Homo sapiens: one gene and its partners. The protein of the gene in region 2 interacts with the protein of the main gene of each other region in a pairwise test. Each region holds a gene or a part of one and is shown on either strand. Other genes may lie near its edges.

Region 1 (4,263 bases), on a different chromosome or scaffold from region 2:
GAGACCAGCCTGGCCAACGTGGCAAAACCCCGTCTCTACTAAAAATACAAAAAATTAGCCAGGCGTGTTTGCGCATGCCTGTAATCCCACGTACTCTGGAGGCTGAGGCACGAAAATCACTCGAACCCAGGAAGCAGAGGTTGCAGTGAGCTGAGATCACACCACTGCACTCCAGCCTGGGCAACAGCGCAAGACTCTGTCTCAAAAAAAAATTTTAAAAATGCCACTGAACAAACAGGAACTAAAAGTTATATGGTCAACATTTCTACTGCTCATTTCCTAAGTCTGGGGGCAGAGGATCGTGCCCAGGAAATGACTATTAGAAAAACCAGGGAACTTCCTCTAATCAGTCCTTTATTGAGTGGTTCTGGTATTTCATGGCTCTAAGTATAATAGTTCTGGCATTCAGAGTTGTATATTTGGTTTCCTTCTGATGATAAAAGGAAAGGACCTCACATCACTCAGTTTTTATTCTATTTATGTCAAGAGAAAAAACTTCCAGCAAACCAAATGAAAAGCAAGACACATCAGCATCTAAAGAATTTCCATATTTATTTTACATAATTTTACCGTACACATCTCATGCCAACACACAGGAGGCATATACAAACAAACGCACCAGCTTCTGTTTTCCAAAGTCATATGGCAATAAATAAGGATGGGTGGGTCTTTTTTTTTTCTTTTTTTCTTTTTTTTCCCCAGGAAACGAGACTTCATTTCTCTTTAACTGTACAAAATTTACATTGTGAAGGATGAGGGCAACGATCCAGAGCTGAGGGGATCTGGGGCTTTGAGGTCTGATTGCAAGCTCAGAGCAACTTCTGGAATCCCGCAGCCCTGAACCTGCTTGTTTGGCCGAACACAGTCCTCAAGTGGGAAAGTTGGTGTGATTCTTGCCTCTCGGTGGGCAATAGATGAGAGTGGGGGTGTCCTTCCTCTGTTCACCTGTGCTCTGCCTCCCTAAGCAAAGGAATGCTTGGTGCACCTCCCAAACCTGCAGCTGTCTCCTTACCAGAGCTAGCAGCATGAAACTGTGCTTTTAGTGTGGTCCTACCAAGCAGAGTGTGGATGGGATGGCTTTGCTGAGCTCTCTCTTTTTGGCTCCAGTCACTCACTGTTTAGAACAGTTGGAGCAACTACTGCAAAAAGGGCCAATTGACCAATCCAAGAAAGAAGAGAGCCAGTGATGTGCTTTTCATTTAGCTTTCAGCATGCCCAGAGCCCTTCAGCAGCAGGCAATAAAACAAAACTCATTTCCGCTTAATTGAATTTTTCTTCATCTCACGGTTTCCAATTTTTAAAGTGCAGTGTTTAAAAATGAGCCTCCTCAGGCCTTCCAGACCCTGCTGGCTGGGGAGGTATGGTCATTATTTTCATGGTTATAACCAAGTTGTCAGTCGTGGCACGTGGAAGTGTAGGTGCAGAGAGTGGACTGTCATACAACACACAGCCTTTGCTCATCAGAAGCCTTGAGCCCCCTCCTGTAAAGAGGCAGTTGGAAATCACCAGTTTGAGCTTCTGAGATAGGAATGTCTTTTGTTTTACAGATTTCTTACACTTCCTTGCAAAGTGAGTTTAATGATGAAGATCTAATGGCCCAATTATCTTACTAGGTTTCATGTTTTACACTGCCCCCCCCCAAAAAAAGTTTAAGGACACTGCCAAATGGTTTTCTTGTGGCTTAATTTTTTCCTCTTTCCCTGATGTTTCACAGTATTCATTTGCAGGAACAGTGTTATCAATGATAGTTGATCTTTATTTTACGTTATATTCATAACTGTCAGATGAGACAAGAAAGAGAAAGCACAAAGACTGAGAGGAATTTGCCTGAGGTTGCATAGCAAGTCCTTGAAGGGCCAAGAACCTGACTCCCAACACTGATTTACCCATCGGGCCAGCTTCTTAGCCCTTAAATCTGGTATTTCCTCCATGGTTTCATTACGTTCCAACAAACAGAGATTCCTCCATAGCCCCTCAGTTTCCATTTTGCTTATACCAGTTACCACTGGAACTTGGGGTTTTAACTAATTTGCTCCTGGATTCAAGAGCTTCCTACTCTAAAGTCGACCAGCCAGGCACTGCAGATAATGGTTGCCTCTAGAAGGTCTCATTTCATTTTTAAAATTCATCCATGTCATTTTAGCAAGGGGGGAAACAGCTACCATGTAGCACCTTATACCCCATAATAGACTTCCAAGCAACAGAGGAGTGCCTCTAAGAGAAGCTAAAAGTAATGAATGCCCGGCTTTTCTCCATTTCCAAACCCCAGAAGAGTCCTGTCATGCAATGGCTCATTAGTGGCACCAGCCCACCCATAATGCTAACCCAACCTGTAGGGAGATCCATTTAAAATCTTAGACCTACTGTGGCTGTGCTTCTAAACAGGCAGCAGTGTTTGCTGCTTTCTGGGGAGGTGGCTCTGGAAAACAAAGCTCTCCTGGTTTTCAGGCCAGTGCTCTCAAGGGTTTTTCCAGCTAACCAGCCCTACTGATGCCAAAGAACTATTGACCTCGTCAACTGCTCACTGAGTTCCTCAAGAGATTTATTATATTATTAGTATAAATGAGGAAGGCCTCTCCTTCCACTATTGAACTGGGAATTAGTATGATTAACTTACAAAAACTGGTCAACTTACTTACAGTGATCTTAAACAGTGCTACACAGAGGAGGATGCCCCCCCCCCTTTTAAAAAGCCTGCTCTCCCCCACACTATACTCACCAAAAACTTCAAGGGCCTCTGAAATCCCATGAGTTGCTAAGCCAAATAGTCAACCTGCAACAGTGATCTGGGTGGGCAGCTTTTCATCTGGTTCATTGCCCAGCAGAGCCTTTTCTCCTGTGTATTTTAAGCAGCCTGCTAAGAAGGGTGTATTTAAAAAGCCATCCTCCAAAAAGACGACTGCATTTTCCTTTCCTCACATGGCATTTGTGTCTTCCTCCCCACCCCAGTGTTCATGATTGGAGAATTCCCAATAGCACAGAATTGGCTAGGATTAACACAACATCATCCATAAACATGGAACCTCAAGAGAAGTGTCTATGTTTGCAGACTTCTCAAGCAAAAATCATGACCACTGCAGCACACCAAAAAACGAGGGTACGCTATAAAATTGGTCAGAGAAGAGGGCCCGAAGGCTGATCCCGGAATTTACTGTTTTAAAGAACTTACTTAATTGAACTTAGTTTAGTCCTGGAAAAGGGCTTACAAAAGATGTAGCAGTCCAAGAGGAACTGTGTATTCTTCCTTTAGTCTGCCTATGACATGCCTAAGTCTTTGCAGTCCTCAAAAGGTGACCAACCATTCGTAGAAGGAAGGGTCCTTAGGGTCTCTGGCCCCATCACTTCATGTGATAGGCAATGCCTTCTCACCCTTTCCTACTCTGCTGATCTCATTTAAGAGAATGGGAGGCCAGAAGAAGCAAACACAGCTTCCCAGAGGGACAGGAATAAATTCCAGCTGGCTAAATTCCAGTTTGCACATGGAGAGCTTCCTGATGGTAGATGGGTGCACAAGGTGGGTGGGAGCTGCAGCACCATTCAGGACAGCGTTTCCCACAGCAGTGCAGTCTGTCGCAGGAGTGGCAACTCGTAAAGCGGGGGTTGGCCTTGCTCTGGCCTCAGGCTTAGTGATTTGCTACTGCAAACCTGCACAACGGGGAGTCCCTGCACCACCACTGGCCAGAGAGTTCTGGCTTTCTGACCATGGGACTGCAGCCCAAGGCATGGCAGGTGTCCAGCCAGCAATCCAGAGAGATGCAGCCCAAGAACCACTTAGAACCCTTTGGACAATTTTAGGGCTGCTCCCTAAATTACTCTTCCCAACCAAGGTAGGCCAAAAAAAAATTGCTGGTTCCTGGAAATGACCAAAACTGTCCTCCAATTGAGTCAGCTAGGACAGCAGAGAAAGCTTTCAGAGGGGTAGACTTGCAAGCTCATCTAAACCAACTCCTTCAAAACAGACTCCAAATATTTCACCCTACAAGGGATGGGGAACTCTGGAAGACTGGCATCAGCCGATATGGCTGAACAGACTGCAGGTTTGGAATCCAAATGTGTCTACAAATGTTCACTGATTGATTGTCATTTTGTTCTCCCCACATTTTAGTTTTGCTCATTTTACAGCCCACAGCCTGTCTTGTGGAATAAATGATACAAGCAATTGAAGAAGGCACACTGTGCACCAAGGGGACGACTCAGGCAATCTGCAGCGGTGGTCCAGGGCTACTCAGCTCAGCCTCAGTCACCTGCAATGAAAACCACCTC
Region 2 (7,042 bases):
ATATTTCTATGAGTTGTACTTTTTTATCCTCCATATATAAGTGAGATCATTCAGTATCTGTCTCTGTTTGACTGGCTTATTTCATTTAACACAATGTCTTCCAGTTCATTTATGTTGTCACAAATGACAGGATTTCATTCTTTTTTAAGGCTAAATAGTATTCCATTGTGTATATATACCACTTTTTTTAATCCATTCATCCATTGATGGACACTTTTGATTCCGTATCTTGGCTATTGTGAATAATGTTGCAGTGAACTTTCAAGTACAGATGTCTCTTGAATGTACTAATTTTACATCCTTTGGATATATACCCAGAAGTGGGATTGCTGGATCATATAGTAGTTCTATTTTTAATTTTTTGTGGAACCTCTGTACTATTTTCTATAATAGCTGTACTAATTTACATTCCCACCAACAGTGTACAGAGGTTCCCTTCATCACATATATGGTTTCCAAATATAGTCTCCCATTCCATAGGTTCTCTTCACTCTATTGATGGTTTCGTTGGCTGTGCAAAAGCTTCGTAGTCTTTTAAAATAATTTTTAAAAAATAATTTAAAATCCAGATTCTACAAACTTCTTAGTGTGATGTAATCCCATTTATTTATTTTTGGTTTTGTTACCAGTGCTTTGGGGTTTATATCCAAAAAAAGTCATTGCCCAGACCAATGTCGTGCAACTTTCCCCTTATGTTTTCTTCTAGTAGTTTTACAGTTTCAGGTCTTACATTTAAATCTTGAATCCTTTTCGTGTTAAATTTTTTTATATGGTAAAGGATGAGGGTCTAATTTCATTCTGCATGTGGATATCCAGTTGTCCCAAAATGATTTATTGAGACTGTTATTCTTAACATCTGTGAAAAGTATGTTTCTGTAACTGTCTTTTCTGTGTTCTTAACATCTTTCTCAAAAATCAATTGACTTTAAATGCATGGATTTATTTCTGGGCTCTTTATTCTGTTTCCTTGGTCTATGGCTGTTTTGATTACTGTAGCTTTGTGGTAGATTTTCAAATCAGAGAGTGTGATCTCTCTGGCTTTGTTTTTTTGGCTTAATATTGCATTGCCTGTTCAGGGTCTTTTGTGGTTCAGTATGAATTTTAGGATTTTTTTTTCTATTACTGTGAAAATATTATTGGAAAATTGATAGGGATTGCATTGAGTCTGTAGATTGCTTTGAGTGGTGTCAACCTTGTAACAACATTCATGTTTCCAATCCATGAACACACGTTATCTTTCCATTTATTTGTGTCTTCTTCAATTTTTTTCATCAATGTGTTATAGTTTTCAGTGTACAGATCTTTCACCTCACTGGTTAAATTTACCCCTATGTATTTTTTTTGTAGCTATTGTAAATGAGATTTTTTTTCTTTTTTTTCAGATAGTTTACTTTTAGTGTATAGAAATGCTACTGATTTTTGTATGTTGATTTTATATCCTGCAGCTTTACCAAAGTAGTTTGTTAGTTCTAACAATTTTTTGGTGGAATTTTTTATAAGATTTTCAATATATAAGAGCATGCCATCTGCGAACAGAAACAATTTCATTTCCTTTTTTCCAATTTCAATGCCTTTTATTTTTCCCTCTTGTCTAATTACTATAGCTAGGACTTCTAGTACTATGTTGAATAGAAGGGGTAAGAGTGAATATCCTTGTCTTGTCCCTCATCTTAGAGGAAAAACTTTCAGTTTTCACCATTGCGTATGATGCTAGCTGTGGGCTTGTCATAAATGGCCTTCATTGTGTTGAGCTAGATTCTTTCTATACCTAATTTGTTGAGAGTTTTTATCATCAAAGGATGTTGAATTTTGTCAAATGCCTTTGTTCCATCTATTGAGATGATCATACGGTTTTTGTCTTTCATTCTGTTAATGTGATGTATCACCTTTACTGATTTGCATATGTTGAACCATCCTTGTATCCCAGGGATAAATCTGACTTGATCCTGGTGAATGACCTTTTTAATGCGCTGTTGTATTCAGCTTGCCAGTATTTTGTAGAGGATTTTTGCTTCTATGTTCACTGGGGATATTGACCTTTGATTTTCTTTTCTTGTAGTGGATTTGTCTGGCTTTGGAATCAGGATAATGCTGGCCTCCTAAATTGAGTTCGAAAGTTTCCCCTCCTCTTCAGTATTTTGGAAGAGTTTGAGAAGGATTTGTATTAGTTCTTCTTTAAATGTTTGGTAGAATTCAGTAGTGAAGGCATCAAGTCCTGGGGGTTTTGTTTAGTGGGAGACTTAACTACTGATTTGATCTCTCTACTTATTATTGGTCTGTTCAGATTACCTATTTCTTTATGATTTAGTCTTGATAGGTTGTATGTGTCTAGGAACTTATCCATTCTAGGTTATCCAATCTGTTGGCATATAATTGGTCATAGCAATCTCTTATGAGCCTTCATATTTCTTTTGTTTTAATTGTAAAGTCATGTTTATTGGAGTATGAACTTATATGCAGTAAAATTTACCATTAAGTATGAGATTGGACAAATGCATAATCATACCATAATCAAGATGTAGAATAGTTGTAGAACAAGATATAGAATCACTCCAAAAATTCCCTCATGCTCCTTTGCAGTCACCCCTTTTTTATCCCTAGGAATGCATTGTTCTGTTTTCTGTCAAAAGGGCCAAATTTAATCACTGCAATGGTCTCCAGTACTGTGGAAAAATTCCTGAGCATACAAAACACACAAACCAAGTTTTTAAAAAATGAGATACTTTTAAAAATGTCTTTAGCATATCAACCAAATGAAGGTAGCTTCATATTTTACTACAGATGCTCAGATATCTTAGGCAGAATTAAGTCCACCATTGCCATATATATGCCTCAACAGTAATATTTAAGAGTAGACTGTAAAAATAAACTTACAATCTTTAGAATCGTCAAAACAATGGGATTATTAAATGACCTTTGTAAGTTAAAGCAAAGTTTATAAAGTTGTCTTACATAGTTGTGAAATAGCTAGTCTAGTTAGATAGAATTAACGTCTCCTAAAACTGACCTGCTTGAAGAACTACTGTAGGTCATGTCTTTGTAGGTAGAGTATGTGAACGAAGATTAAGTACTTGCTCTTTTGTGTTAACACTGTGTCAAGTTTCAGACTGGGGCTGGTTGATAGAAAAACTAGTTAAAAAAAACTATTTTAAATAATGGAATTGAATTTTATGGAAATTCTCTGTGGCACCAACTCAACCACAGGACAGAAACAAAAAATTCTCATCTAAACATTCCTGTAGAAAATTGGGACCATCTAAAAATTCACCCCAGCTACCACCATGAAAGAAACAAAGAAAGCAAAAACTTCTGTTCTGAATATATCAGTGGTCCCATATTCAGATACTTCTTATCTACTTGAAAAGCTTTGATGGGTGGGGCACGGTGGCCCACACCTGTAATCCCAGCACTTTGGGCCCAGGTGGGCAGATCACCTGAGGCTAAGAGTTCGAGACCAGCCTGGCCAACATGGTGGAATGCTGTCTCTACTAAAAATACAAAAATTAACTGGGCGTGGTGGTGCACACCTGTATTCCCACCTACTTGGGAGGCTGAGGCAGGAGAATCACTTGAACCTGGGAGGTGGAGGTTGCAGTGAGCCAAGATTGCGCCATTGCACTCCAGCCTGGGTGACAGAGCAAGACTCCATCTCAAAAAAACAAAACAAAAGAAAAAAGAAAAGCTTCGCTGATTCTTTCAAACACACATCAGACCTTAAGTTCATTAGCATTTATAACGTCACTGAGCTGCATTGAGCTCTGTGGCTGAAAAAGCCAATTCTTTGTATTTCTGTGGTATCAGTTGTAACATCTCTTTCGTTTCTGATATTATTTGAATCTTCTCCTTTTCTTAATCTAGCTAAAAGTTTGTGGATTTTGTTTTTCTTTTCAAAAATCCAGCTCTTAGTTTCATTGATCTTTTCTATTGTTTTTCTAGTCTCTTTCATTTTTTTCTGTTCCGATCATTATTATTTTTTTCCTTCTACTAACTTTGGGTTTTATTTGTTCTTCTATTCCTTCAGTTGTAACACTAGGATGTTACACTTTGGATCTTTCATCTTTTTTGTTATAGGTCTTTACTGCCGAAGCTTCCTTTCCTCTTAAAACTGCTTTTGCCACCTCCCATAAGTATTGATGTGTTGTATGTCCATTTTCATTTGTCTCAAAATACTTTTAATTTCGTTTTTAATTTACTTGACCTATTGGTTGTTTAGGAGCATGTTATTTAATTTCCAGTTATTTATGATTTTTTTCAAGATTCCTTCTATTATTGATTTCTGGTTTCAAACCAATATGGTCAGAAAAGATACTTGATACGATTTCAGTCTCCTTAAATGTATTAAAATTTGTTTTGTGGCATATCATATAACCTGGAGAATGTTTTGTGTGCCCTTGAGAAGAATGTGTATTCTGTTGCTGTTTTATTGAATTTTCTACATATGTCTGTTAGGGCCAGTGTTTCATTATTGATTTTCTGCCTGGATGATATGTCCATGGTGTTTGTAGAGACGGCGTCTCACCATGTTGCCCAGGCTAGTCTCAAACTCCTGAGTTCAGGGGATCCTCCCGCCTTGGCATCCCAAAGTGCTGGGATTACAAATGTGAGCCACTGTGCTGAGCTCTTTTCCATTCTTTCACTTCAATCTATGTGTGTCCATTTTTTAAAGGTGAAGTGAGTCTCTTGTACACAGCAGGTAGTTGGGTCTTATTTTTGTATCTATTCAGTCAATCTGTGTCTTTTGATCAGAGAATTTAGTCCATTTACATTCAGGGTAATTATTGATAGATAAGGACTTACTGCTGCGATTTTGTTCATTGTTTTCTAGTTGCTTTATAGATCTTTTGTTCCTTTCTTCCACTCTTGCTGTCTTTTGTGATTAGATGATTGTCTCTAGTGATATACTTTGATTCCTTACTTTTCATCTTTTGTGTATTTACTATTAGGTTTTTGCTTTGTTGTTCCCATGAGGCTGACATAAAACATGTTATAACAGGCTATTTTAAACTGATAATAACATAATTGATAACATAAAAAACCTCTGCACTTTTACTCCACCTCTCCACATTTTGCTTTTGATTTTGCAACGTATATCTTTTTATACTGCATATCCCTTAACAAGTTATTGTAGCTATTATTATTTTTAATAGTTTTGTCTGTTAACTTTCATACTAAAGATATAAGTGATTTAATCACCATGACAGTATTAGAATATTCTGAATTTGACTGTATACATTTTTTTTTCAGCTCTAAAATTTCTGTTTGATTTTTTAAATAATAATTCCAATCTTTCTGTTACATTTCTCATTTTGGTCATTTATTATTTTCTTGATTTCATTGAATTGTTTCTCTGAATTTTCCTGAAGTCCACTGAGTTTCCCTAAAACAATAATTTTGGATTCGTTGTGAAGAAGGGTCAGTTACTGGTGATTTGTTTCTTTAGTAGTGACGTGTTTCTCTGATTATTCTTGGTCTTTGTGGCCATGTGTTGGTATGTGTGTGTTTGAAGAAGTAAGGACTTACTCCAGTCTTTGCAGACTGGCTTTGTCTGGGAAAGCCCTTCACCAGTAAGCTCATCCAGAGGTTCTAGACAGGCCATCTGTTGTGGTGCATGGCAGGCTTGCTGCTGGAGTCCTTGGGTAGGCTGGCCTGGTGCCTAGGTTCGTAGGGTTGTTCCTGGAGCCTGATCCACTGGGGTGGACCTGCTGATTAGCTCTATAGGGGTGGGCCTGGATCCTTAGGGTTCCAACTTGAAGCCTAAGTCTGCAGGGGTTGGTCTGGCACTGGGGTGAGCCTTGAGCCTGAGTCTGCAGTGTCTGGCCAGGTTCCAAGGTGGGCCTGGTGCTTGGAACCCCTGGGGTGGACCTGGAGCCAGAGTATGTGGGGGTGGGCCTGGGTCCTGGTTGTACTGTGACTAGCCTGGAGCCTGAGTCTGCAGGAGTGGTCCTGCAGCCTCCGTCCATGGGGGCCAATCTGGCAATGCAATCTACTGGGGTGGTCCCAGACTCTGGGTCTGCTGGAACATACCTAGACCCTGACTCACCACAGGGATTTGTCTGGGGCCAGCTTGGTGCTGGGGCAAGTGTGCAGCCTGGGGTCACAGGGGCCAGACTGGAGCCTGAGATTATAGGTGCTGGCCTGGTAACTTGGGCTACATGGGGCTGGCCTGGGTCCTACGGCAATAGTGGCTAGCCTGGAACTTGAGTCCACAGGGATGGTCCTGGAGCCTGTGTTTATGGGTGTCAGCCCAACAGAAGGGCCTACTGGGATGGGCCTAAACCCTACTTCCACTAGGGTATGGGCTGCAGGAGCCAGACTGGGGCCACAGGAGCTGACTTGGCACTGGTCAGGCCTGGAACCTATATCTGCAGGAGCTGACCTGGTGCTGGGGTGGGCCTGAACCTTGGGCCCATGGAGGCTAGCCCTGTGCTGGGATTGGTCCAGAACCTAGGGCCACTGGGGCTGGCCTGTCCCTAGAGCAGACCTGGAGACAATCTATGCAGTCTTGCCTGGTGCTGGGACTGTCCTGAGCCTTGAGCTGGTCTGGAACCTACGGTCCCAGTGGGACAAGCCTAGAACTCAGGACTGGGTGATCCAGCCTAGTGCCAGGATGGGCCTAAAGGCTTCGCCTGCAGGTGTCAGCCTGGAGTCTGGGCTGAGGGGGCTTGCTCAGCACTGAGTTCTGCTGGGGTGGGCCTGGTGTTGTGGTCCAAGGCAAAGTCCTGTGCTCACTGCCTCTCCTTCGCCCACCTGGAGGGTATCTCTCTCCATGCTGTGCTGCCTGGAGTTGGGGGAAGGGTGACATGAGTTCTGTAAAACTGTCCTTCTTACCCTCTTCAGTGTGTTTTTTCTTACTTTTGTGCTAAACCCAGTGCTGTAATTTCTCACCTGGTCTCCTTAGCTCTTGAGAATGTATTTTCGTGCGTGAATAGTTTTTCAAATGGATGTTTCTGTGGGAGGATCAGTGCTGGAAAGTCCTATTCCCCCATCTTGCTGTTGTCCCACCTTTTTCTCCTTTATGTATGATAATCTAGGGTTGACTGTA
Region 3 (7,042 bases), on a different chromosome or scaffold from region 2:
AGGACCACCCCCTGTTCCATCCCTCCCATAGGCTGGAGGAGAGGCCCGCAGATACTGGGAGCCCCAAGGCTGTGTGTGTGCACATGCGTGTGTGTGCCCGTTATGGGGGATGTACAGAAGGGCTAACAGCAGAGGCGTCCAGCCCTCCTGGGTCATTAGAAGGACATGTATACAGTGACTGGTCAGTTCTGGTCTCTTCTCAGCCCAAATGTCAGAGGTCTGTGGAGGCCAAGCTCAAGTCATGAAAATAGGGGCTTCAGCTGGGTGCAGTGGCTCACACCTGTAATCTCAGCACTTTGGGAGGCTGAGGCCAGTGGAGCGCTTGACTCCAGGAGTTCCAGACCAGCCTGGCCAACATGGTGAAACCCCATCTCTGCAAAAAATTAGCTGGACATGGTGGCTTGTGCCTGTAATCCCAGCTACTCAGGAGGATGAGTTGGGAGGATCACTTGAGCCCGGGAGGCGGAGGTTGCAGTGAGCCAAGACTGCACCACTGCCATCCAGCCTGGGCAACAGAGTGAGACCCTGTCTCAAAAAAAAAAAAAAAAAAAAAAAAGAAAGAAAGAAACAGAAAAAAAAAAAGAAGAAAGAAAATACGGAATTCTTGTTTTGCTCTGCTGCAGAGCAACCCCGCCAGCCGCCTTCCCTGATTATGTCTATTTATGAAAGTTGCCACGCCTCCTTGCCCACCCTCCCTCTGAAGAGAAACTGATTGACTGATCTCTCAATCAACAGGCATTGTCCCCCCACTGCCACCTGCCAGCCCTGCATCCTCTCCTCCCAGCCTCCTCTGGGTTGAAGGGTTGAGTTTGCTCCATACTGGGCCTGGGACCCATCCTCATGGGGCTTTTATCTTCTAAAGGATGCTGTTCTTTGGTTAAATGTCCAGATAGTTAAAGAGAATCAGAAGCAAAGGTCAAGATAAACTCATGGCTGGAACCTTGATGAAAGTAGAGAATAATTTGTAAAGTCACTGAGCATTTATGTGACAAAAACAATATCAAGAAATTGATGTATATACTTTGTAATTTGGCTTAAAAAACAGATTCTTCTCATTACATAAGGAATGTAAATGCATCATAGAAAACCCAGAAAATCTGAAAGCAAAAAGGAATATTAAATCCCCACAATCCCTTCCAGCCAGAGTCCTGTAATACATTTCTCACCCGGAGCCATCATAGCGTCTTACATCCACACGCACCTTACGCGTGCATGTCTTACAAAATGGGATCGTGTTGTACACATTGTTGCGTCAACAGGCTGTTTCCTTTCAAAGAGCATAGGATTCTCCTAAGTCAATGTATATGCTCCTGGACCATCATGGCGTAGACCCAGAGACCCAATGAGTCAGCCTCTGGGGGCCATGCAGACAGAAGCCCTCCCTGGCCTAAAGCTGTCCAGATGCTTAGTGCCTGGGTGTCCCTTCAGAGGCTCCCTGCTCCTCGGGCCCCACCACAGTAGATGAATCCCTGCTGTGGTCCTACTGAGCCAAGCTCCTTCCAACATGCCAGCCCCGTTGGATTTGGGAGCAGTCCTGGTCTGCTCAGCTTTGTTTGCAAGTGGACTCTGTACCCCCTCTGAATGCCCCTTCATATCTAGTTTCCTTCCTTCATTTCCAACACAGAACAGAAGCTCAAGTCTCTCTGGCATGCCCCGGGCTTCTGAGGGCTCAGAGCCTGCTCTCAGGTTACCTTTTGAGTCAGCAGGGTTCCCTCCTCCTGGCCCCACCCAGTGTAACCCACAGTGACCCCAGCTCAGGATTCCAGCCCCACTGAGAGTTGTTGAAAGGAATGGACACATCCCACCATCAGAAAGGCCCAAGGGCCTTGGTCTTCTGAAGCCCTGAGGAAGCTGGGAGTGGGGGCATCACGGCCCCAAGGACCTGGAGGATGGCACCTGGGTCCTGGTGATGAGCAGAGGGTCCCGGTGTTCAGGCTTAGGGTCAGGGGTGGGCACCTTGTTCTATCCATTTGCTTCTGTTTCCACCTACAGTTGATTCTCTGTCTCTCTCCCGGCCTTCGTCCTCCCTCTCCTCCCCTCTTGCCTTCTCTGCAGCTGTTGCAGGGTGTGATGGAGAACAAAGCTATGTACCTACACACCGTCAGCGACTGTGACACCAGCTCCATCTGTGAGGATTCCTTTGATGGCAGGAGCCTGTCCAAGCTGAACCTGTGTGAGGATGGTGAGTGCAGCTGGCTCAGACTTGGGGCACAAGATCTGGCCTGGGGGTGGGGAAGGAGCCCTACCACCACCCAACCTTGGCATTGCCTTTAAGTGCTTGTGACCTCCTCATGTAATAGTGCATATATTGAACTTTATGCTTTAAAAGGTCTTCTCCATGGGTTTTCTCATTCATTCACTTCCACAAACCTGTCAGCAAGATGAGTACTCATTTTACAGATGGACAGATTTCACAGTCCATCAGTCTTATGGTGGTCCAGCATGGAGCCTCCTGACTCCGAGGGCCATGCTTCTGCTCCTGAGAGAGTGAGACTCGGGTCAGGCAAGGGCCTCTGAGCCAGTCAGTGCAGACCCTCTCAGGTGAGGAGAGGGGCCTCCCACCCACTTCCTGAAGCACTCGTGAGGGGCAAAGAGCTCTCCAAGGTGCTCATCCTGCCCCTGGGTGCAAGGCCCTGGTCTTGCCACAGAAAGGGGTCCCCAGGCCAGTGACCCAGAAGGCCTTGCATCTCAGGGGCTGCTTATTTGCTAAAACCCTGGAGATCCAAGTGATGCAGCTTCCTTTGGAGGAGCCCAGAGCGCTTTTCCACCAGCTTGGCTCCTGTGCACCCAGTAGATGACTGATAAGTTCTTGCTGCATGCAGCACATGTCAGAGAGGAGAGCATTGCCCCCACGTCAAAGAGAAATAGAATGAAGCTTACTGAGGAGCCTTGCAAAGACTTCCGGCCAAGGAGAGACAGGCCTTTTCCTCTCTTGTTTTGCTCCACTCTGCCAACTGCCTCTTGAAATTACTCAAGAGCAATGACTCCACTCTTCTCTTCCTCCGACCCTGCATTCCTCCCACAAGGCGCTGAGTGTAGGGAAAGAACCGTGGTGGCTTAGAGTGGGGAGAGTCTCTGCAGGCAGAGGACACAAGGAGATTTGGGCTTCTGACCAATGAACCTGCTCACCCAGCCCTAGGATTGTCCACCATGGTGGCTCTTCTTCTGGATTCCAATTGACAAACATATTTTGAGGATCCACGACGTGTCAGGCCAGGGTGAGCAGCCAGGGATTCTCCAAACACAAATTAAAAAATCTCTGTCCTCAAAGGGCTTATGATCCCAGTAGAAGAGGCTGGCATGGGAACAACTGCCTATAATATACAGTAGGCCAAAATGTGTGTGAATAATAAAGTCAGGCGAGCAGAGGGCTTTCTGGAAAAGGGCTGGAAGACTGAAGGAGATTGTCTAAGAGAAGATGTGGGAAAGATATTCCTATTTGTGTGACACCAAGCTGGGTCAGGTTTCTGTAAGGCTCACACCAGTCAGGCGGAGGAGAAGGCCTGGGGTTCTGGTCCCATGCAGAGCTCCCATCAGTCCATCCGCAAAGGGGAAGGTGGCATCCATATCCACTGGCACATCAGCAAAGGGGCTTGGTTTGGCAAGAAAGACTGGGTACAGCACAGTGGGGTGATTGGAGAGGACTATCAGGGCCAGCCTGGGGGGCCTCAGGGGTGGGAGGGGTCAGATGTCCCTGGGACCACCATACCCACTTCCTAGTACCTCATCTTACTCTCCCTTTTTCTGAACCCCAGATTGTTTTTTTAAAAAGCTCATTTGGACCAGAACGACTGGAAATTAACAGCAACCCTAGCCACTGCGCCTTCTGGGCCCCTCCTCTGTGGGGAGCTCTGTCAGAGGGCACTTTGGGAGCCATGCTAGCCATGTCCTGTCCCAGGGTTCCCTGATGCTAGGGCCCAGGTGCAGGGCAGACAGCAGAGGTTGAGAGGTGTGGAGTCCAGGCTGATTCGTGCCTCCTGGGCCTCTGTGGGCCTCAGTGTACTCATCTCAGGCTGACTCGTGCCTCCTGGGTATGTGACCCTCTGTGGGCCTCAGTGTACTCATCTGCCAAATGGGGATGCAGGGGGTTATCTCTGAGGTCCTATCTGGTTCTAGAATTCTGTGTGTAAAATTGGACCTGGCCATTGAATTAGGAGTGTGGCCCTTTTCAACCCCAAGTTAGAATATGATACTATGCTGGGCAAAGCATGGCTGTGGCTCCCACTTCAGCAGGAGTGAAAACTCGGGTGCTGACAATGTGCCCAAGAGGTCCTGTGCCTCTCCCCTCTGTGCTGCCCCAACCTTGGCAGGGAATCTCTGACTTGCTCACCTGGGTCTTTTGCCCTTAGAAGGGTGCTTCCCTGGCATCCCCCAGTGTGCATTACTGCCCCCTCCCACTTGGTCCATGCTCTCACCTCCCCCAGGACTTAGCTCAGCTCCCACCTTCTGCGAGGCCTGAGTTTCCATCCCCCTTTCCCTGACTCTTTTTTCCTTTCTTCCGTGGTCTGACTTCCTCATGACACTGTAGTCTCCTTATTTACATGTATCATTTATTATCCATTCCCTGAGGCAAGAATATAGGCTGGACCACAGTAGGCATCTCTGTTTTGCTTATTGATGTCTCCTGAGCCCAGCATACAGTAAGTGCTCACTAGGCATTTTTTGAATGAATGGATGAATGGGTGGATGGATGAATGAAGGGAATAGATGGATGGATGAATGAATGGATAGATGGATGAATGAATGGATGGATGAATGGGTGAATGGATGAATGAATAAATGGATGGATGAATGAATGAGTAAATGAATGAATGGATGGATGGATGGATGGATAGCTGGATGGATGAATAGATGGATAGATGAAAGGATGGATGAATGGATGGATGAATGGGTGAATGGATGGATGAATGAATGAATGGATATGTGAATGAATGAATAAATGGATGAATAATGAATGGATAGATGGATAGCTGGATGGACGGATGAATGGATGGATGGATGCATGGATGGATGGGTGAATGGATGGATGAATGAATGGATGGGTGAATGAATGGATGGATGGATGCATGGATGGATGGATGAATGGATGGATGAATGAATGGATGGGTGAATGAATGGATGGGTGAATGAATGGATGGATGGATGAATGAATGGATAGATGGATGAATGAATGGATAGATGAATGAATAAATAAATAGATGAATGAATGAATGGATGGATAAACAGAGGGGTCCTCGAAGTCTAAATGTGGCAAAGCATTCACCATCTACACCTGATTGCCGAATTCTCTGGGTCCATCTTCATTCCTGGCTGCCAGGTTGGGGGCTGGAATATGGGGAACCCAGGCAGAGTAGAGTGTTGAGATGAAGCCAGTGACTTCAAAGCTTGTGGGCTTCCAATTTGATTTTTCCCCCTTTTCCTTTCATTTCAGAGAGGAAAATGATGAGCTTGACTTGGGGAAATTCAAGCCAGATTTGATCTGTTTTAGAAACCCTTTAGAAGGGTTTTGCTGCATCTTTGATCCTTATCTCTGCGGAGTGAAATGGGAGAGGAAGAGGAAAGGGTGGGGCCAGGCAGGGAGGGAGGAGGGGGAAGTTGGGAAGAGATGGGAAAGGAAGGGAGAGCCAGCACCCTGAATCCGGTCAGGGCCGCCCTTGAGCCTTTATTTAGTAAATGAAGACGGTGAAGTGTGAGGTCCAGGACAAGCTCCAAGTCCCTTACAGGTCTTCCTCCTTCAATGGAGGGCGAGAGGTGGGAAGAGGGGAGGAGAGATGGCACTTCTTGTTGGAGGCTGGCCATGGGGATAGTGGGATCAGGGGAGGCAAAGTCCCAAAAGTACAGCCCTGACATGAAGGTAAGATGCAGCCTTCCCTGGTGGTGGGACCTGCTGAGTCCCGGGTCCGGTCACTGGCAGGCTCCCCAGTGTTCCTGCTGGGTGTGATGAGCTGCCCCACTCTCATGGCCCATGTGCTGTGGAGTGCAGGACTCATCTTCACTGAGACCGGAGAGGTCAGGACTGTGTTTTGCTCCTCTGGGAATTCTTTCGGGACCTTGTAGGTGGCAGATGTCCCAGAAGTCTTTGTGATTGTTGGTAAATGATGTGGTAAGTCCACTCAAGTCATCAGTGGTGGAGCTGGAACCGGACTCTGAGTCTCCTTACCTGAGATGCAGGCTCCTTCCCAGGATGGGGATTTCACGGGGTTGGACTGATGGTGCCAAGGAGTGACTCCCCTCACTTCTGGATTTGGAACCAATTGGGAAATAGACAAGGAGGCATGTGGGAATCCAAGTGCAGAATCTGCCTTAAGCCTGGAAAAGCTCTGTTCACGATGTGGCTGCTGGCACCCCCAACAGACACTCACCCAGCCAGCAAGCGTGAGTGCCCCTGTCCAGGCACCAGCCTTCACCTGGTTCACCCACACACGCCCTCCTGCCCATCCACCTGAGAAACAGGGACAAGAAATGCCAGGTTACAGACAGCTCACCCATTGGACAAGGTAGCACTTCCTGCAGGCAGAAGTGCTGAGGAGTCCCTCTTTTATGGGCTTGGGCAGGTGGTCAGTCCAGAGATGAAAGGAGCTCCCTGCAGCCACCACCAGAGGTGAGAGCAGGAAAAGCAAGAGAGGAGGTGAGGGGACACCCTTGGGGTATGGGCTGAGTGGGGGCTCGATGCCCAGGGAGCTTCCTCAGCGCAGAGGAAGGGACCCTCCTCTAGCAGAGCAGCTCCTGCAGGCACCGTTCCACTCCTGCACCGGACCTGCTGTTTTTTTCTCTTTCCTTCTCGCCCCTCATTTCTCTTCACCCTCCCTGCCTTTATCCCTTCCCTTTCTTCACTTGCCAGGTGAGATGGGAAGAGGAGGGACTGTTGGGTGCCTTGGTTCTCTGTCCCCTCCCTGAGCAGCCATCTTGCCCAGCTCCTCCAGCTCGTCCTGTCCCTGCATCCTTCAAGGCCCCGCAGGTACCCCTTGCTCTCTGATGCCTTTAGAGCCTCCCTTCTCTGCATGCCTGGGCGGGGCCACCTCTGGAATCTGCCTCCTCCCTT
Region 4 (4,782 bases), on a different chromosome or scaffold from region 2:
AAAACTGAAGATTGTCATGATTGTTTATCCTAATCCCAATGCTGAAGTAAGATTGTCTTGGAAATACTAAGTTGGGTAAGTATTTTTTAAAGGTTTATGTTGAGTGGTGAGAAAATACTAACAGAAAAAGATGGGAAAATTTTAAAAGTGCACTTTCAGATCAGCAGGGGAACTATGTTACCTCAGTCTCATGCTATTTTGAGGCTAATAATTCAGGAATTTCAGTAATTTGTGGCTAATTAAGTTTAGGTTTGAGGCAGTTTTCAAACAACAGTGAGTTACATTTGAAATTTGTTTTAATTATAAATTCAGAATTCTCAAAAAGCATATTTAATTTAAAATGTGCCTAGTTACAGTACTACTGTGATTGTCAATTATGCCTTATTATTTATTACATTGTTTCTGTAGGAAAGTGAATTCTGCATTTAAATTTCAGGGAACCAGTCAGAAGCATCTGGATTAGGCATTTAGTGATACAAGGATCCAGAATAACAAAAACTATGTACCAGCCACATTCACACAACAGGTGATACCCCTATAGGTTAATTATTCTCTAGATATTCTAAATTAAGAGACACAGAATACTTAGTCTTATGTGAGTCAAGAGCTCTATTCTGTCTTCACTACTGGGTGTCTACTGTTATAAACTGGAGAATATGTGTGGTTAAATGCCATGTTTTTCATTTTTAATTGATCTTTTTCTTATTGCTGTGGTTCTTTGCCTTTTTAGGATTTCTTGTAAAAACCTCAAAATGGTTATAAAGAGTATCACAGATGTGGTGTTATGGTTAGTGTGTACTTTGAAAGTAATGAATGTTTTTATGTAATTAAATATCTTTCTGCCAAAATTACCTACTTAGTGTTATATTTTTAAACTAATGAGTAGTCATTAAATATTCTATTTTTTAACACTAGAATTTGGTACTTAAAAGCATGAAGTCTGGAATCAAATCAACCTAAGATTCCAGCTCTGGCACTTTACTAACACCTAACCACTTCAAGATCCAGCTTATATATCTTTAAGATGAGGATAATAATGATTCCTACTTAATAGGGTTGTGACAATTAAATGGTATGATATTGCAAAGTTTTTAGGTCAGTGCCTGACATATAATGACTCTCAAAATTATTATTATTATCTGTTTACACACATTAATTATATCCTTTTCTGGATATTCTATATAGTTATTTTTTATAAATAATGTTTATTCTTACCATCAGTTGACCAGCTTATTCTTTCCTTTTCTCTTGAGATTTATAATTAATCACCTTCATTATATTCTAATGAAAACAGAGACATAAGTAATTGTCACACCACAAACAGTATGATTACTCAGGTGTATTCAAATTATTTGGCACCCCAGAGCTAAACTATCTAGAGCAGCTATAAATAAACATGTGAAAACTCTTAACCAAGTTACTTCTAGTTTGGAAGAATTAAATTGGCCTCCAGTTCTCAGGTAATTTGTTTAGAATATCATATAGAGTGTCAGCAATCATTTACTTATAATATTGATATTTAGAAATTGATTTTAAGCTAAATACTTTTTTAATTTTTTTGATTTCCACCTTTTAAGTTCAGGGGTACATGTGCAGGATGTGTAGATTTGTTACATAGGTAAGTGTGTGCCCTGATGGTTTGCTGCACAGATCATCACATCACCTAGGTATTGAGCCCAGCATCCACTAGCTGTTTTCCTGATGCTCTGCCTCCTCCCACCCCCACCCTCTGACAGGTCCCAGGGTATGTTATTCCCTTCCACGTGTTCTCATGATTCAGCTCCCACTTATAAGTGAGAACACATGGTGTTTGGTTTTTCTTGTTGTTGTTCCTGTGTTAGTTTGCTGAGGATAATGGCTTCCAGATCCATCCATGTCCCTGTAAAGGACATCATCTCATTCCTTTTTATAGCTGCATAATATTCCATGGTGTATAAGTACCTCATTTTCTTTATCCAGTCTGTCATTGATGGGCATTTAGGTTGATCCCATGTCTTTGCTATTGTGAACAGTGCTGCAGTGAACATACGCTTGCATGTATCTTTATAATAGAATGATTTACATTCCTTTGGGTATATACCCAGTAATGGGATTACTGGGTCAAGTGGTATTTCTGCCTCTACGTCTTTGAGGAATCACCACACTGTCTTCCACGATGGTTGAACTAATTTAATTTACACTCCTACCAACAGTGTAAAAGTGTTCCTTTTTCTCCACAACCTTGCCAGCATCTGTTATTTTTTGGCTTTTTAATAATAGCCATTCTGACTAGTATAAGATGGTATCTCGTTGTGGCTTTAGTTTGCATTTCTCTAATGATCAGTGATGTTGAGCTTTTTTTTCATATATTTCTTGGGCACATGTATTGTCTTCTTTCCAGAATTGTCTGTTTGTGTCTTTGCCCACTTCTTAATGGGGCTGTTTGTTTTTTCTTGTAAATTTGTTTAAGTTCCTTATCAAGGAACTACATGATTCTTATCAAAAAGGATTTTGGACAGATTTTATGGGCAGAGTCTTTAACTATTTGGGAGCTAAAGGTGTAAGAGAAGATAAAATGAAAAGAGCAGTGACATCGATGCCTTTCACTTCAGGGATGGTGGAACTTTTCAACTTTATAATAGTTGCTGGATATTAGACCTTTGTCAGATGGATAAATTGCAAAAATTTTCTCCCATTCTCTAAGTTGTCTGTTTACTCTGTTGATAGTTTCTTTTGCTGTGCAGAAGCTCTTTAGTTTAATTAGATACCATTTGTCAATTTTTGCTGTTGTTGCATTTGCTTTTGGCATCTTTGTCATGAAACCTTTGCCTTTGCTGTGTCCTGAATTGTATTGCCTAGATTTTCTTCTAGGTTTTTTATAGTGTTGGGTTTTACACTTAAGTCTTTAATCCACCTTGAGTTGATTTTTGTATATGGTGTTAAGGAAGGGGTCCAGTTTGTTTTCTGCATATGGCTAGCCAGTTATCCCAGCACCATTTATTAAATAGGGAATCCTTTCCCCATTGCTTGTTTTTGTTACTAAATACCTTTTCTTAAAAAGTTATTTTACATCTTCCAAGATTTCATGTTATGTTAAATTTGTTCAGAATTTTGGTTAGTACACAGAGAGTCCTTTATACATGATCTGTTATTTAATATGAGGATTGTAAATATTTTAATCTAATAAAATAAGTGTGGTTTGATTGATAATTTAATGATAGTAAGAAATGCTTTTTTTTCTTTCTTATAAATTCTATAAGAAACACACCTCCAGGAACACAATAATACTATGAATGTCCTTTTTATATATTTTGTTTTCCACTTAAAATACTCAAATACGAACTTTGCTTCTTAGAGAAAAGTGGTTAGGTAGTGGTCTTGAAGTGCTTAATTACTTTGTTTATATTCCTCCCTTTAGCAGATTAACATTTAGTTATGTTTATTAAATAAGTATTTTAGCTAGATATGTAAACAGAGTTTGTTTAGGGAATAATATTTCTTCTTTTTCAGGGTAATCCAAATCTATTTCTGGAACCATGAAAATTTTGCTAGTTTTTGACTTTGACAATACAATCATAGATGACAATAGTGACACTTGGATTGTACAATGTGCTCCCAACAAAAAGCTTCCTATTGAACTACGTGATTCTTATCGAAAAGGATTTTGGACAGAATTTATGGGCAGAGTCTTTAAGTATTTGGGAGATAAGGGTGTAAGAGAACATGAAATGAAAAGAGCAGTGACATCATTGCCTTTCACTCCAGGGATGGTGGAACTCTTCAACTTTATAAGAAAGAATAAGGATAAATTTGACTGCATTATTATTTCAGATTCAAATTCGGTCTTCATAGATTGGGTTTTAGAAGCTGCCAGTTTTCATGACATATTTGATAAAGTGTTTACAAATCCAGCAGCTTTTAATAGCAATGGTCATCTCACTGTTGAAAATTATCATACTCATTCTTGCAATAGATGCCCAAAGAATCTTTGCAAAAAGGTAGTTTTGATAGAATTTGTAGATAAACAGTTACAACAGGGAGTGAATTATACACAAATTGTTTATATTGGTGATGGTGGAAATGATGTCTGTCCAGTCACCTTTTTAAAGAATGATGATGTTGCCATGCCACGGAAAGGATATACCTTACAGAAAACTCTTTCCAGAATGTCTCAAAATCTTGAGCCTATGGAATATTCTGTTGTAGTTTGGTCCTCAGGTGTTGATATAATTTCTCATTTACAATTTCTAATAAAGGATTAATATGTCAGCAATTGAAAAGTGTATCACTTAAGATTAGGTTCAGCAGCATAAAACTAAAACCCCAAATACCAGAGGCTTAAAAAAAAAAAAGAGAGAGAATTTTTTTTTCCTCTCACATGAAAGAATTCCAGAGGTAAGTATTTCAGGGTTGCTGTGTTAGTCTACCAACCTCAGCACTTGGCATTCAACCCATGATCCAAGGTTGCTGGTGAAGCTCTAGCCCTCACAGCAGCACTCTGGCCAGCAAGAAAGAGGGCAGTGAGAAAGTTACATCCCCTGTCTAAAGAAATTTCCCAGAAGTTGTACCCAACACTTCTATTTAAATGTCACTGGCCAAACTTAGTCATAATGCCTTACTTGTAAATAGCAAGGAAGGATGGAAAATATAGCTTTCATTCCAGGTAGTCATGTGCCCAGGAAAAGTTGGGGAAAAAAGTACAGAATTGAGTTAGGTACAGCTAGTGGTCTCCACTAAAGGTGGTTGATAGTTTATATTTTTTAATTTATTCCTGGAGCAAGTAAGCATATTTTATTCTCTTAG

Evidence for each region.
Region 1: the proteins of WASHC3 (region 2) and LHX4 interact in binary tests that used the Homo sapiens proteins (3 or more experiments, as listed by UniProt).
Region 3: the proteins of WASHC3 (region 2) and SCARA5 interact in binary tests that used the Homo sapiens proteins (3 or more experiments, as listed by UniProt).
Region 4: the proteins of WASHC3 (region 2) and PHOSPHO2 interact in binary tests that used the Homo sapiens proteins (3 or more experiments, as listed by UniProt).

What each region holds. Positions count from the first base shown.
Region 1 is NC_000001.11:180,275,255-180,279,517, reverse strand, and holds the end of LHX4 (LIM/homeobox protein Lhx4), read right to left. Parts: 3' UTR 534-4,263; downstream 1-533. UniProt on the Homo sapiens protein: May play a critical role in the development of respiratory control mechanisms and in the normal growth and maturation of the lung. Binds preferentially to methylated DNA.
Region 2 is NC_000012.12:102,051,974-102,059,015, reverse strand, and holds part of WASHC3 (WASH complex subunit 3), read left to right. Parts: intron 1-7,042. UniProt on the Homo sapiens protein: Acts as a component of the WASH core complex that functions as a nucleation-promoting factor (NPF) at the surface of endosomes, where it recruits and activates the Arp2/3 complex to induce actin polymerization, playing a key role in the fission of tubules that serve as transport intermediates during endosome sorting.
Region 3 is NC_000008.11:27,982,644-27,989,685, reverse strand, and holds part of SCARA5 (scavenger receptor class A member 5), read left to right. Parts: intron 1-2,055; 5' UTR 2,056-2,070; coding exon 2,071-2,182; intron 2,183-7,042. UniProt on the Homo sapiens protein: Ferritin receptor that mediates non-transferrin-dependent delivery of iron. Mediates cellular uptake of ferritin-bound iron by stimulating ferritin endocytosis from the cell surface with consequent iron delivery within the cell.
Region 4 is NC_000002.12:169,697,457-169,702,238, forward strand, and holds the end of PHOSPHO2 (pyridoxal phosphate phosphatase PHOSPHO2), read left to right. Parts: 5' UTR 1-75; intron 76-408; exon of another isoform or gene 409-526; intron 527-3,489; 5' UTR 3,490-3,515; coding exon 3,516-4,241; 3' UTR 4,242-4,252; downstream 4,253-4,782. UniProt on the Homo sapiens protein: Phosphatase that has high activity toward pyridoxal 5'-phosphate (PLP).